3 linked regions of the Homo sapiens genome follow. The protein of the gene in region 1 purifies or fractionates together with the protein of each later gene. This does not show direct contact. Each region holds a gene or a part of one and is shown on either strand. Other genes may lie near its edges.

Evidence for each region.
Region 2: the proteins of ISL1 (region 1) and BCL9 purify together in Homo sapiens (affinity purification with mass spectrometry, with the first as the bait; one large-scale study listed by BioGRID). This does not show direct contact.
Region 3: the proteins of ISL1 (region 1) and RNF20 purify together in Homo sapiens (affinity purification with western blotting, with the first as the bait; one study listed by BioGRID). This does not show direct contact.

What each region holds. Positions count from the first base shown.
Region 1 is NC_000005.10:51,389,937-51,393,585, reverse strand, and holds part of ISL1 (insulin gene enhancer protein ISL-1), read right to left. Parts: intron 2,313-3,649; coding exon 2,145-2,312; intron 93-2,144; coding exon 1-92. UniProt on the Homo sapiens protein: DNA-binding transcriptional activator. Recognizes and binds to the consensus octamer binding site 5'-ATAATTAA-3' in promoter of target genes. Plays a fundamental role in the gene regulatory network essential for retinal ganglion cell (RGC) differentiation.
Region 2 is NC_000001.11:147,540,273-147,544,440, reverse strand, and holds the start of BCL9 (B-cell CLL/lymphoma 9 protein), read right to left. Parts: upstream 2,941-4,168; 5' UTR 2,767-2,940; intron 1-2,766. UniProt on the Homo sapiens protein: Involved in signal transduction through the Wnt pathway. Promotes beta-catenin's transcriptional activity.
Region 3 is NC_000009.12:101,547,276-101,550,924, reverse strand, and holds part of RNF20 (E3 ubiquitin-protein ligase BRE1A), read right to left. Parts: intron 3,527-3,649; coding exon 3,407-3,526; intron 320-3,406; coding exon 140-319; intron 1-139. UniProt on the Homo sapiens protein: Component of the RNF20/40 E3 ubiquitin-protein ligase complex that mediates monoubiquitination of 'Lys-120' of histone H2B (H2BK120ub1).

The sequences.
Region 1 (3,649 bases):
ATGCTGTTAGGTGTATCTGGAAGTTGAGAGGACATTGATGCTACTTCACTGCCAGTGGAATTAGAGCCCGGTCCTCCTTCTGAAAAATTGACCTGCATAGAAGGTTGAGAAATAAATAAAGGACACTGGAATAGTATTCATAAAAAGATTATAAACTCATCATATTGTATATGTAGAAATGTTTGTGTAGATAGATATGTAAAGATATTCACATAGATAACTGAATTTTAACAGGCTTAGAGAAAGCCTAGAGGAGAAAAACTTGGGAAGAAATCCTCTCACTTTCCCATCTTCCAAAAGATCTCTGTTTTAACTGAAACTGAATTCCCAACATTATGTTGCATTAAATTATTTAAGAACAAATGTGTTTCCCACTGTAAAATGGCATCACAACTCTACTATGCATGCTCGAAATAAAATTATCCTGCTGGCTACATGTTGCCCTGGGAGTAGGTGAGCTCTCAGTCTCTAGGCATCAAAGACTCTCTTCTTCAGTTGGAAAATCCGTAACAGGCTCAGATCCTTTGACAGGAGATTGAGAGGAGGCTCCACAGAACAAAGATTAACTCCTCAGCAGGCTCACAGCTTGGGCATTCTTCCTTGTTGGTCCTGCTGCCTCTTGGCCTTTCTCTCTCTCTCTCTTTAAATCAGGCTCTTCCTTCCAAAATGAGACCCATATATTATGACATCATCCCATTCTGACTCCTTCTTTTAACCCTAATATCTGACTCCTTCTTAAATATCTGACTCCTTCTTTTAACCCTAAACGCATTGTACTGCTGTTGTAAACCTTCTCTAACTATGCCCACTCCTGCCTCAGCTTCCCTTCCACTGCTCTCATCTGACACTAAAGTTTCAGAAAGTGCAAACATTTGGCTGCCCTGAAGCCTCCCCTTACCTTCCTCCTGTGATTCAGGATTCGCTCAAATAACTCAACAGATTAATGAGCTTAGAATAATTTTTTTTTCCTAGTTCTAGAGCCTACATTTCTTTCTACAGTAAATTTTTCCAATATGAGATTAAGGGACTTCTAGCCTCTGCACCCACTTAGCATTTGCAAACACAAGCCTGGGGCCAAGCCCTTTTAACCACTTGCCTCTGGCCAATTACCTAACTGTTGACATTGAGAAAGCAAATGCCCTCCAGGTAAATATGAGGGTAAAAAGCTAACCTCAACTAAAGCTTCATTTCCAAAAAAGGGAACAAGGTTTCAGGATAGATCTTTACATTTTATAAAACAAGATTCTATAAGGCTGATTACTCTTTAAGAAAAAAAAATCATCTATATAAATATAGCATATTACAAAGGACATATATTTATTGTTCTTATTTATCTTGACCCCTTAAGCCTTTTGTAGGCAAAAAGTGAATTAATTTTCTCCTCTCTGGATGTGGAAAACATGTTAAGGTTTTCACAGATTAAACACTTTACTTCTGATTGGTAGAGCTCATGTCCCTTTTGCTATACATGGTACACACTGTGTGTCTCTATGACATTTGAACTCATACACTTGAAAACATTTAAACGGTCCTACATTTTAGATTAAGACATTCCCAGCAAGGGATACTGTAACAAAAAGTATTCATCTATTTGAATAATCTTTATTAATATATTTGAAAATTGTACCCAGACACATGCCTGCTGTTTATTGATAACAACACTGATTGTGTATTATAGCATTGATTATATACTACAATCGCCTTGATTTGGGTCCTATATATCCCATTCTCTAGATGCTCAGGAAGGATAAACTTACTAATTGCTGATTGAAATGCCAAGACGATTTCCTGAAGTCCTTGACAACTCTAAAATTCTAAGATGTATGATTCTCCAACACTGTACATCTTCTGGCACATGCTACCTAGAGTTAGGTACCTTGAAATTAATCCTTCAAAGAAGGCCTGATTGATAGAAAATTCAACCTATATGGTCAAATTATGCAGTCTCATTAAAAAAAAAAAGATGCCAAGAGGTTCGTTTTCCCTGCATTTGTCTCCCTTCTCTTCATTACCCACCTCCTTGGTTTCTCCCCAACCCTGAGCCCAAGAAGGCACCCTCCCCACTGAATCTTTCAATGTGTGACAGTTAAACCAGAGTCTCCTGTTGGGAATTCAGCCTCTTCCATCTGGGAGCTGACACTTACCAGTTGCTGAAAAGCAGGCTGATCTATGTCACTCTGCAAGGCGAAGTCGCTCAGTACTTTCCAAGGTGGCTGGTAACTTTGTACTTCCACTGGGTTAGCCTGTAAGCCACCGTCGTGTCTCTCTGGACTGGCAGCCACCATGGGAGTTCCTGTCATCCCCTGGATATTCTGTGAATAGGCCCCCCAACCAATCCCAACATGTTAATGAGCAAATTCCCTCCCTCCGTTGTCTGCACAGGCTAAGCAAATATACCCTGGTATTATCTTATCTATATAGTGGTCTTTATTGACTCAGTTAATCCGCCGTACCTACGGATATTAGTTAGAATTCAATTTGTTTTATTGTTTTGTTTTTCTGCCTCTGTGGGCTGGACTATTAGGTCTGCATGGACCTTATTAAACCAAATTCTACTTTGATTTTCTTCTTCCCCCTTACCTTCACAGCTCAGCCCAATTCCTCCCCTCTGCCTTCTCAGACCATAGCTTCCCAGAACTAAAAAGCTGAGGTAAGCAGGGCTTCCCTTCAGCCTCTAGACAGGGTGGTTTTCTGAGCAGTTTCAGTTAGCTGCAGATTTTTTCCAAGCCGTTCTCCTCAAGGAAGAGCCAGCCCCCCACTCCATCCCCCCAAAGCATTTGGGTCTGGTTCCTATTGTGCTATTATGCACTAACCAACTCAGAAAGTGCCCTGGCCCAATCTTGGCCAGCCTGCCAAGTTTAATGACAGCAGATTTTATGGCATTTAAAAATAGGTCCAAAGCAGTAAAAAAAAAAAAAAAAAAAAAAAAAAAAAAAAAAAAAAGAAAAAGAAAGAAAAGAAAAAAAGGAAGAAAAGAAACTCTAGCTTAACTTCACCAGGAGGCCTGCAGAGTGGGTGCTTCCGTGGGACCAAGATAACAGTGGATACTGGTGCGAGGGGCCTGATGCCTCTGTGGAGGCCTGGGCTTCACCTGGAGCAGAGGGTGATCTGGGCATGCGGGTCACCTTGGGGGAACTCGCCAGCCTGAAGGCGCAGCGGCCGACCTTACTTAGAAGTGCGGTGCGCCCTGGGGGCTCACAGGGTGACCTGCCCACGGAACCCCTGGATGTAGGCAGGAATCCAAGGTATTATCCCTCCCTCTTCTTGTGTACGTGAGGAACTGACGATCTGAATGTTGGCAAAACCCGGGCCAAACCTCGTTGCCGCCTGCCCTCAGAGGGGAGGACGGCGTTTCTCCGGTTCACAGGTACAGGCGAGGTGGAAGGGCATGAGCCCACCCACGAGGTTGGGACCTGGATGCTGCTCCCCCGGCGCACGGAGCCTCCCAGCTTCCCCGCCCTCAGCTGGCGGCCGGCGCCGGGTAGCCTGTCCCCCGGGGCATGGGTAGGGGGGTAAGGATGAGGGGCAGCCCCGGCCAAACTCCTGCCCAGGAGCAGGATTGAAAACCGTGCGATCCTGCGTACCAGGAACGCACCTCGCACGCTGCGTCTCCTTCCCCCTCGCATTCCCTGCCCGGCCCCAGAGCCAC
Region 2 (4,168 bases), on another chromosome or scaffold:
AAGAAAAAGAGAGAGAGTGAAGGATGGTGAGAGAGGGAAGGAGAATTTTCTGCTCTTTGGAATTGCTGGGCTCCCTGTGAATAGGAATGGCACCAGTGGAATGGAGGTTGGCTGGGGCAAGGGGAACTCAGCCACACAGAGAAAGAGAACAGTTAGCTTATGTCTAGTTACACACTTTGAGTCAATAACTTATGCAACTCTATGCACTCCGTCATAATACTTGCATGCTATTCAACAAGTATCATCAATATTATGATTACTGGTTTGTGTGACCATGTGGTTAATGTTGATCATACCAACAAGACTGTAAGTTCCCTGAGGGCAGGGGTATATCTGCCTTTCTCTTCCTATATCCTCAGTGCCCAGTATTTGCCTGCTGCAGAGTAAAGAGCCCCAAAATATAAGTTGAATGAACAAATGAATACATGAATGAATTTATGCAAATTCATGTTGTGGACCCATGTTTGCATATTTGTACCATTTGATGACATGAGCAGGGCAGAGTGTGCTGCTGTAATCCAGCACAGCAAGCAGAACTACAAAAGGTGCCTCTCTTTGGTTGGCCAAGTGCTGGAGTTTGTAAAATCAAATGTGGGTGTGAGGTAAGGGTACCCGGCATGAAGACCCTTGGGGTACTCTGAACCCCAGGGTGTGGTCTAGATGTTACCACAGCTTTGTTGCACCCGCCTCAGATCAGTGCTTATCTCTCTTGGACCTTAACATCCTCATCTATAACATGATGGAATAACACTTCTTTTTCCTTGCAGTTCTTAAATTCTAACATTTTAGGAAGATATCTGGACCCTGAAATCTTGTCAGGAACAACCATGGTAAGATCTCTGACTATAAAGTAGAAAACAACTAAGTTTTCAGATATATATATGCATAAAATACAGCTTTATTTTAATAAAACCTTAAATGTAGGGGGACCTTCTTGCCAGATCCAGGCCAACTAATGGCTTTCCTTCAGCTTTTCCCATACTCAGAAGTCAGGTTTCCAGGCCTCTGTGAAAAGCACATAAATATTCTCAGCCAGGGCTGGCCCTTTGCTTCAATCTCCAGCTATCACAGGGAGTCAGTCTGATAAACATTTGCAGTTAGAATGGAAGGAGGCACAGCCTCCTAGACTTTTACAGATTTTTTTGGACAAGTAGCAGAGTCACAGAAAACCTAGAATTAGGTAAGAAAGCAGAACTCCTCCAGAGAATTCAGAGAGAGCTACAACTGAGAGCCTTTAAACAATCAATGTGTAGGAACAGAAGAAAGGAAATCCACAATTCAAGAAAATAAGCAGACATTTTTTTTCCTCAAAAAAAATTGTTAAGATGAATGTTAGGCACTGATTTTAGCCCTCTGTTCCATCCCTCAAGATGTCACTTGAAAAAGCAAAAGGTTTTATCCACAAAACCACCGGCGAGTAAACAGCCTTCACATTCTTAGCCTCGTACACACACAGTAAGATATTTACTCTCTGATAAACAGCAATTGTAAATAAATCTCATTTAATCTCTAAAAGCCACAATAAAAATCTTTAACCTCCAAGGTAGAGTTTACAGATGCGTCTGCATGCCCTGCCAGCCCCAGAAAACACAAGGTCTTGAATAAACTACTATACCAGGAGGCACATTTTCTCGCTCAAGCATCTTACATTGACCTTCTTTAAAACAAAAATACGTACAAGGAGGAGGAAAGGGGAAAACCCAACCCCTCCCACCCCATTCTCTGTACAAATCGGCCAATAAATCTAACGAAAAGACACAAGAGAAAAAGGACAGAAGCCAACAGGTGGAACAAGGCTTTTTGTTTCCTTAGAAATGCTCAGACACTTGATCTGTGCTCCTCAGTCTATTTGTCTCAGGGTGTCTTTAATGATGTTTTTATTACCCTGATGATGATGATCAAGAATAATGATAACACTTCTACTCTGTGATTCCACAGCATCTCTAGCTGACGATTTCTCCACGCGTTTCAGACACAGTGATCTGTTCTGTTTCGCTCAATCCCAGGGAGGCATACAGCATCCCTGATCAGCAACCTTGATTTTACAGATGGGGAAATTGAGGCACGGGGCACCCCACAACTCAACAGTCTCTACGACCAGAGGAATCCCTGAGACTGGAAAAGTTTCTGGATCGTCTTGTGGCAGAGTTCTCTTGCTCTCCCTTCTTGCCTGCCATGCCGCTCCTCCTCGGAGAGTCTGGGCTGGGGTGGTAAGGATCGGGGTGCCTCCCCTTCACAGCGAGGCACGCCAGGGCAGTGTGTGGGAAGTCCACACGCACACACAGACCCACGGGCACACTGGCACACACAAAGCTCGATGCAATCTCTGCAGTCACTCGGCGGAGCCCTGGCCGGCCCTTGCTCAGCCTGAGAATGCACAGCTCGGAGCCTGCAAGGCCTCCCTGGGCTCTGGGCTGGGGTTTCCCTGAACCAAGGCTCTGCCCTTCTCTCCCTCTTTTCCAGGCTTCCCTCTCTCGCGCTCCCTCTCTCTCTCTCTTTTCCCTCCCACCCTCACACCCTCCTCCCAGCCCTCTCCATCCACCCCTTCTCCCCCACCAACCCAGAGGCACAGATCGTGTTACTGGGGTTCCCTCGAAAGAGGGGCCATCCCCAGTCCTGGATGCCTTGAAAGACTTCCAGGGGCAACGCAGGAGCTCCAATCGCAGGACCCCAGCGCTCCTCCAGAGCAGCGCAGGAATGAGACCCCCACTTCCAGGCACAGGCGAACAAGCCTGCCACCGAAGAAGGAATTGTTAGGGCTCTTACCTTTTTTATGAGGAGAAATTCTGGAGAATCATTTCAGAAACTGAGGGGGGAAAGTGAATGAAGACAAAAAAGACCCTTTTCCCGCAATCCCTGGCCTCCTGGTATCAAGACACCAGGACAACATCAAAGCAACTTAGGGGGAACACTTTAGGGGCCTATTGTCTGCTCTGGTCTGATCTGTTTTTCTTCTGACTCCCCCTCTTGCTGCGGTGACACTTGGTACGGCCCAGGCATTCATGCCAAGTAGCTTTCACACATGGAAGCTTGTCTCAAGCAATTGCTGACAAGCCACAAACAAGACATTCTCCCTCCCTTCTCTGCGCCCCCCCACTCCTCCCCCCTCCACCTTTTCCTCCTCCCCTCTTGTCTCCCCTCCTCCTTTCTTCTGAATGCAAACTAAAACTCTCCAGTGACAGGCAGGCTCGCAGGCTTGGCCTAGCTGCGCACGCAGGCACACACACACACACACACACACACACACACACACACACACACACTCTCTCTCTCTCTCTCTCTCTCTCTCTCTCTCTCTCTCTCTCTCTCTCTCTCTCTCTCCTCTCTCTCTCTCTCTCTCTTCTCTCTCTCTCTCTTCTCTCTCTCTCTCAAGCAGCTCAGCTAGTTGCTGCTGCACTGGTGGAGTTAAGAGACAGGAAAAAGCCCAGGCTGAGTTGGGGGCAGGGAGAAAAAGAGAGGGAGAGCGAGAGCAGAGAGCCGCCTCCTGTGTCCTAGTAAAATGGCAGAAGAGAGGTGAGTCCTTTGGAAGAAAAGCAGTGGCCACACACGTGTGCACACATACACAGACTCAGGCCATCTCAGCGCCAGGAAAAGTGAAATAAATGACCCGACAAAGGAAAAAGCAAAGTCCCATTAGCTGGAGATTGGGGGAGTAGGGAGATAAGAGGGTGAGTGGCCCCAGGACTGGGGTTTCTGTTGAGTGGTTAGGTGATTTTTCTTCTTTACAATAGAGAAAAATTTGTTTCCTAAGGATCTAGCCTTCTTTCACTGCATAATTGAGCATGGACTTGAGCTACTAGTTAAAATAAAATCATGAAATGTGTAAATGTGTGAGTAAACTTAACTGTAGGTTCAACTTGTACCCAAGATATTTTTAAAGTGAAGCTTTTTTTATTTTTTTTTATTTTTTATTTTAGCAGAAACCCTAGAGAGCAGTAGCAAGGAGAGTAGTAACAAGTAGTGTAAACTAGGAGAGCTGTGAAGTGTGATGCTAAAGTTACTGATTGCCAGGCTGCTGGAATTTATGGAGGGTGGGCCTGAGAGTTGGAGGAGGGGAGGGTGAGTGTGCTGTTTTCTAGGAATAAGAGGGGAATGAGGTAGGATAATGAATATGGCAAGAAACAAGCAGGAATTTGATTGGTGTGGAGGGAGGAGGTGGGGGCTGTAA
Region 3 (3,649 bases), on another chromosome or scaffold:
ACCTACCAGAGTAAAGACCTACTGCCACTCTATGAATGACAGCTGAATGAATGAGAGATTAATTGCACATGAGGGAGTAAAATTGTAAAATTTAGGAGGCAAGAAAGCTTACATACAAAAGACAAGGCAAGGCTATTACCTCAATAAGCTCAACCTGGTGCTGGTGGGTTCCTCTGGTGCCATGAAGCAGGGTCCGAGCCTCATCCAAGTGTGCTTTCAACTGTAGGCTCTCATTATACAAGACGGAGAACTGTGACTGCATGCAGCGATATTCTGGAGTTTCCTTAACGACTTGCTCCACTGCACTCCGCAATTCCACCTTAGGAGGGCCCAAAGCAAAGTCAGAAGCAGAATCTAGCATTGCCCCAGACGCTAGACAGGAAGTAAAATTTTGAACTCACTGATGTCCTACACAAGAGAGACAATTTTATAAAGATTATTAAGTTATCTACCCATTGCTGTAGTTATGTAAAATCTACCCCAAAATTAAATTAGACTAACTAGGAGATGGTACCTGGATATACTGTATTCTTTCCTCCTAGAATTGTTTTGATATGTGTTTTATATTCTGTGTCAAATGAGCCACCAGAAGAGTGAAATTTGTCAGGATGCTTATTTTAAAAACATAGTTGAGGACCCCAGTCACTAACTTGTTCTCTTTAATAACAGTGACAGAGAAAAAAATTGACAGGGTATCAAAAATAGTTATGCCTCTCCTAAGCAACTATCTGATTTAATTACTCAAACACTTTTAACTGATTTAACTTAGGTTGTTTTTGTTTTTTATTTTTCAGTTCAAACATCTTTATTCATATCATTTAACCTACAAACAACTTGTAAAATAGAGATGACTATGATCGAAAGAGGAGTGAGAAAGACTTCCAGAATCTCTTTTCTTCTCCTAAGATGTGGGCGGCAAGCCACCCAGGTGCCGAGGCAAGAGACCGAGGACACGAGCTGTTCCAGTATAATAAAATATAAAACAAGAATAGTTATGCCAGATATAGATCTTAGATATGATTATATATGAATATCATTAATCATCAGTTTGTAGCAATTACTCTTTATTCCAATATTATAATAATCCTCGCTCTATAATCATAACCTAGGAAAAACCAGGCCATACAGAGATAGGAGCTGAGGGGACACAGTGAGAAGTGACCAGAAGACAAGAGTGCGAGCCTTCTGTTATGCCCAGACAGGGCCACCAGAGGGCTCCTTGGTCTAGCGGTAATGCCAGCTTCTGGGAAGACGCCCGTTACCAGGTGGACCGTGGTCTAGCGGTAGCGTAAGTGTCAAGGGAAAACACCTGCTACTTAGCAGACCAGGAAAGGGAGTCTCCCTTTCCCGGGAGGAGTTTAGAGAAGACTCTACTCCTCCACCTCTTGTGGAGGGCCTGACATTAGTCAGGCTCGTCCGCCGTTATCCGGAGGCCTAACCTGTTCAGTGGTCACGCTCCTAGGCCGCCTTCATGTTCCATCCTGTACACCTGACTCTGCCTTCTAGATAGCAGTAGCAAATTAGTGAAAGTATTAAAAGTCTCTAATTATCAGAAATAATGGCATAAGCTGTTTCTCTCTCTGTCTCCTCTCTCTCTATGCCTCGGCTGCCAGGCAGGGAAGGGCCCCCTGTCCAGTGGACATGTGACCCACGTGACCTTACCTACGATTGGAGATGGCTTGCTCTCCTTATCCTGCCCCTTTGTCTTGTATCCAATAAATATCAGTGCAGCCTGGCATTTGGGGCCACTACCGGTCTCCGCAACTTGGTGGTAGTGGTCCCCCAGGCCCAGCTGCCTTTTCTTTTATCTCTTTGTCTTGTGTCTTTATTTCTACACTCTCTCGTCTCCGCACACAGGGAGAGACCCACCGACCCTGTGGGGCTGGCCCCTACACTAACAACCTAAGAAGAAAATTCTTCTGGGCAGGTTTGAAGACCAACAGGATCACCAATCGTGTTTCTTTCTCTGTTTTGGTAGCAAAAAACTGCAGAGCCAAACCTGTGGAATCACTTCGGTAAGCACTGACATGTGAATGGCCTCCCTTCCACAGTATATATATGCCCCCTGCAAACATCTTGTATACAAGCCCCACTTTAATGCATTTTGGATCCTCACCCTAGTTTACCCTACTTCTCATTTTTCTCAACAACTCCTACATTACAGCACCTTGATTTAGTCTACATATCTTTGTATGTTGCTTTAAATCCTTTTCAGGGCAAGGCAGAGTACATATAATAAGTAAATATGTAAGTAAAGAAGTAGATATATCAACAAAACTTAACATTTTTTCTTTGTTCCCCCCAGCTTTATTAAGGTATAATCAACAAATAAAAATTATACATATTTAAGGTATACAATGTGGCATTTTGCTATACATATACACTGTGAAATCATTACCACAATCCACCTAATTAACAAATCCTTCACCTCACAGTTATCTTTTCGTGTGTGGCAAGAACATTTAAGATCTACTCTTAGCATATTTCAAGTACACAATACAGCATTAATTATAGTCACCATGCTACACATCACCAGAACTTATTCATCCTGCATAACTAAAACTTTGTACCTTTTCCCCAACATCTTCCGATTTCCCCAACCCTGGTAACCACCATTCTACACTCTGCTTCCAAGATTTTGACTTTTTTAGATCCCACATACAAGTGAGATCATGCAGTATTTGCCTTTCCGTGCTTGGTTTATTTCAGTTAGCATAATGTCCTCTAAATATATCCATGCTGTTGCACATATACACACACACACTCACATACAAACACACACCACATTTCTTTATCCATTCAGTGTACAGTTCTTTCATCTCCCTGGTTAAGGTTATTCACAATTTTTTTTAATGGTATTGTAAATGGGATTGTTTTCTTAATTTCTTTTTTATAGAGTTTGTTGTTGGTATATAGACACACAATTGTTTTTGTATGTTGATTCTGTAGCCTGCAACTTTACTGAATTCATTTATAGTTCTAACAGTTTTTTCGTGGAGCCTGTAAGGTTTTCTATATATAAAGTCATGTCATCTATAAACAGAAACAACTTTACCTCTTCCTTTCTGATTAAGAGGCCTTTATTTCTTATCCTTGCCTAATTACTCTGGCTAGGACAAAAGTAATGACAGCGAGCATCTTTATCCTGTTCCTGATCTTAAAGGAAAAGCTTTCAACTTTTCGCCATTGGGTATAATGTTGGCTGTGGGCTTGTTTTATATGGCCTTTATTATGTTGAGGTACACTTCTTTACACCTAATTTGTTAAGAGTTTTATCATAAAAGGATGTTGGATTTTGTCTACATTTTTCTTATCCCTCATGAATACGCAGATTCACAACTATGTATATACGTGAGTTGATCAGCAGAACGTCTGATTTTACTGCCCTTCAGGGATGCGTTCCTACCTTCAGCTTTTCATTTTGTGTAGTGACCTCCTCAAAGTCTTGCCGAAGTTTCTCCAGCTCACAGAGACGGTTCTGAGCCAACTCTTTGTTCTCCTCAAGCTCTGCATTCATTTCCTCAAACTGCAGAGAAGCAGAAAAATAGAGAATAAATAAGTATTCTTCTTAAATCATTTCTAAGCTTCCTTTCTTCACTGATTCGCTATTCCAGCAAAACCCCATGATGTCACTTGTGAACACAGTCCT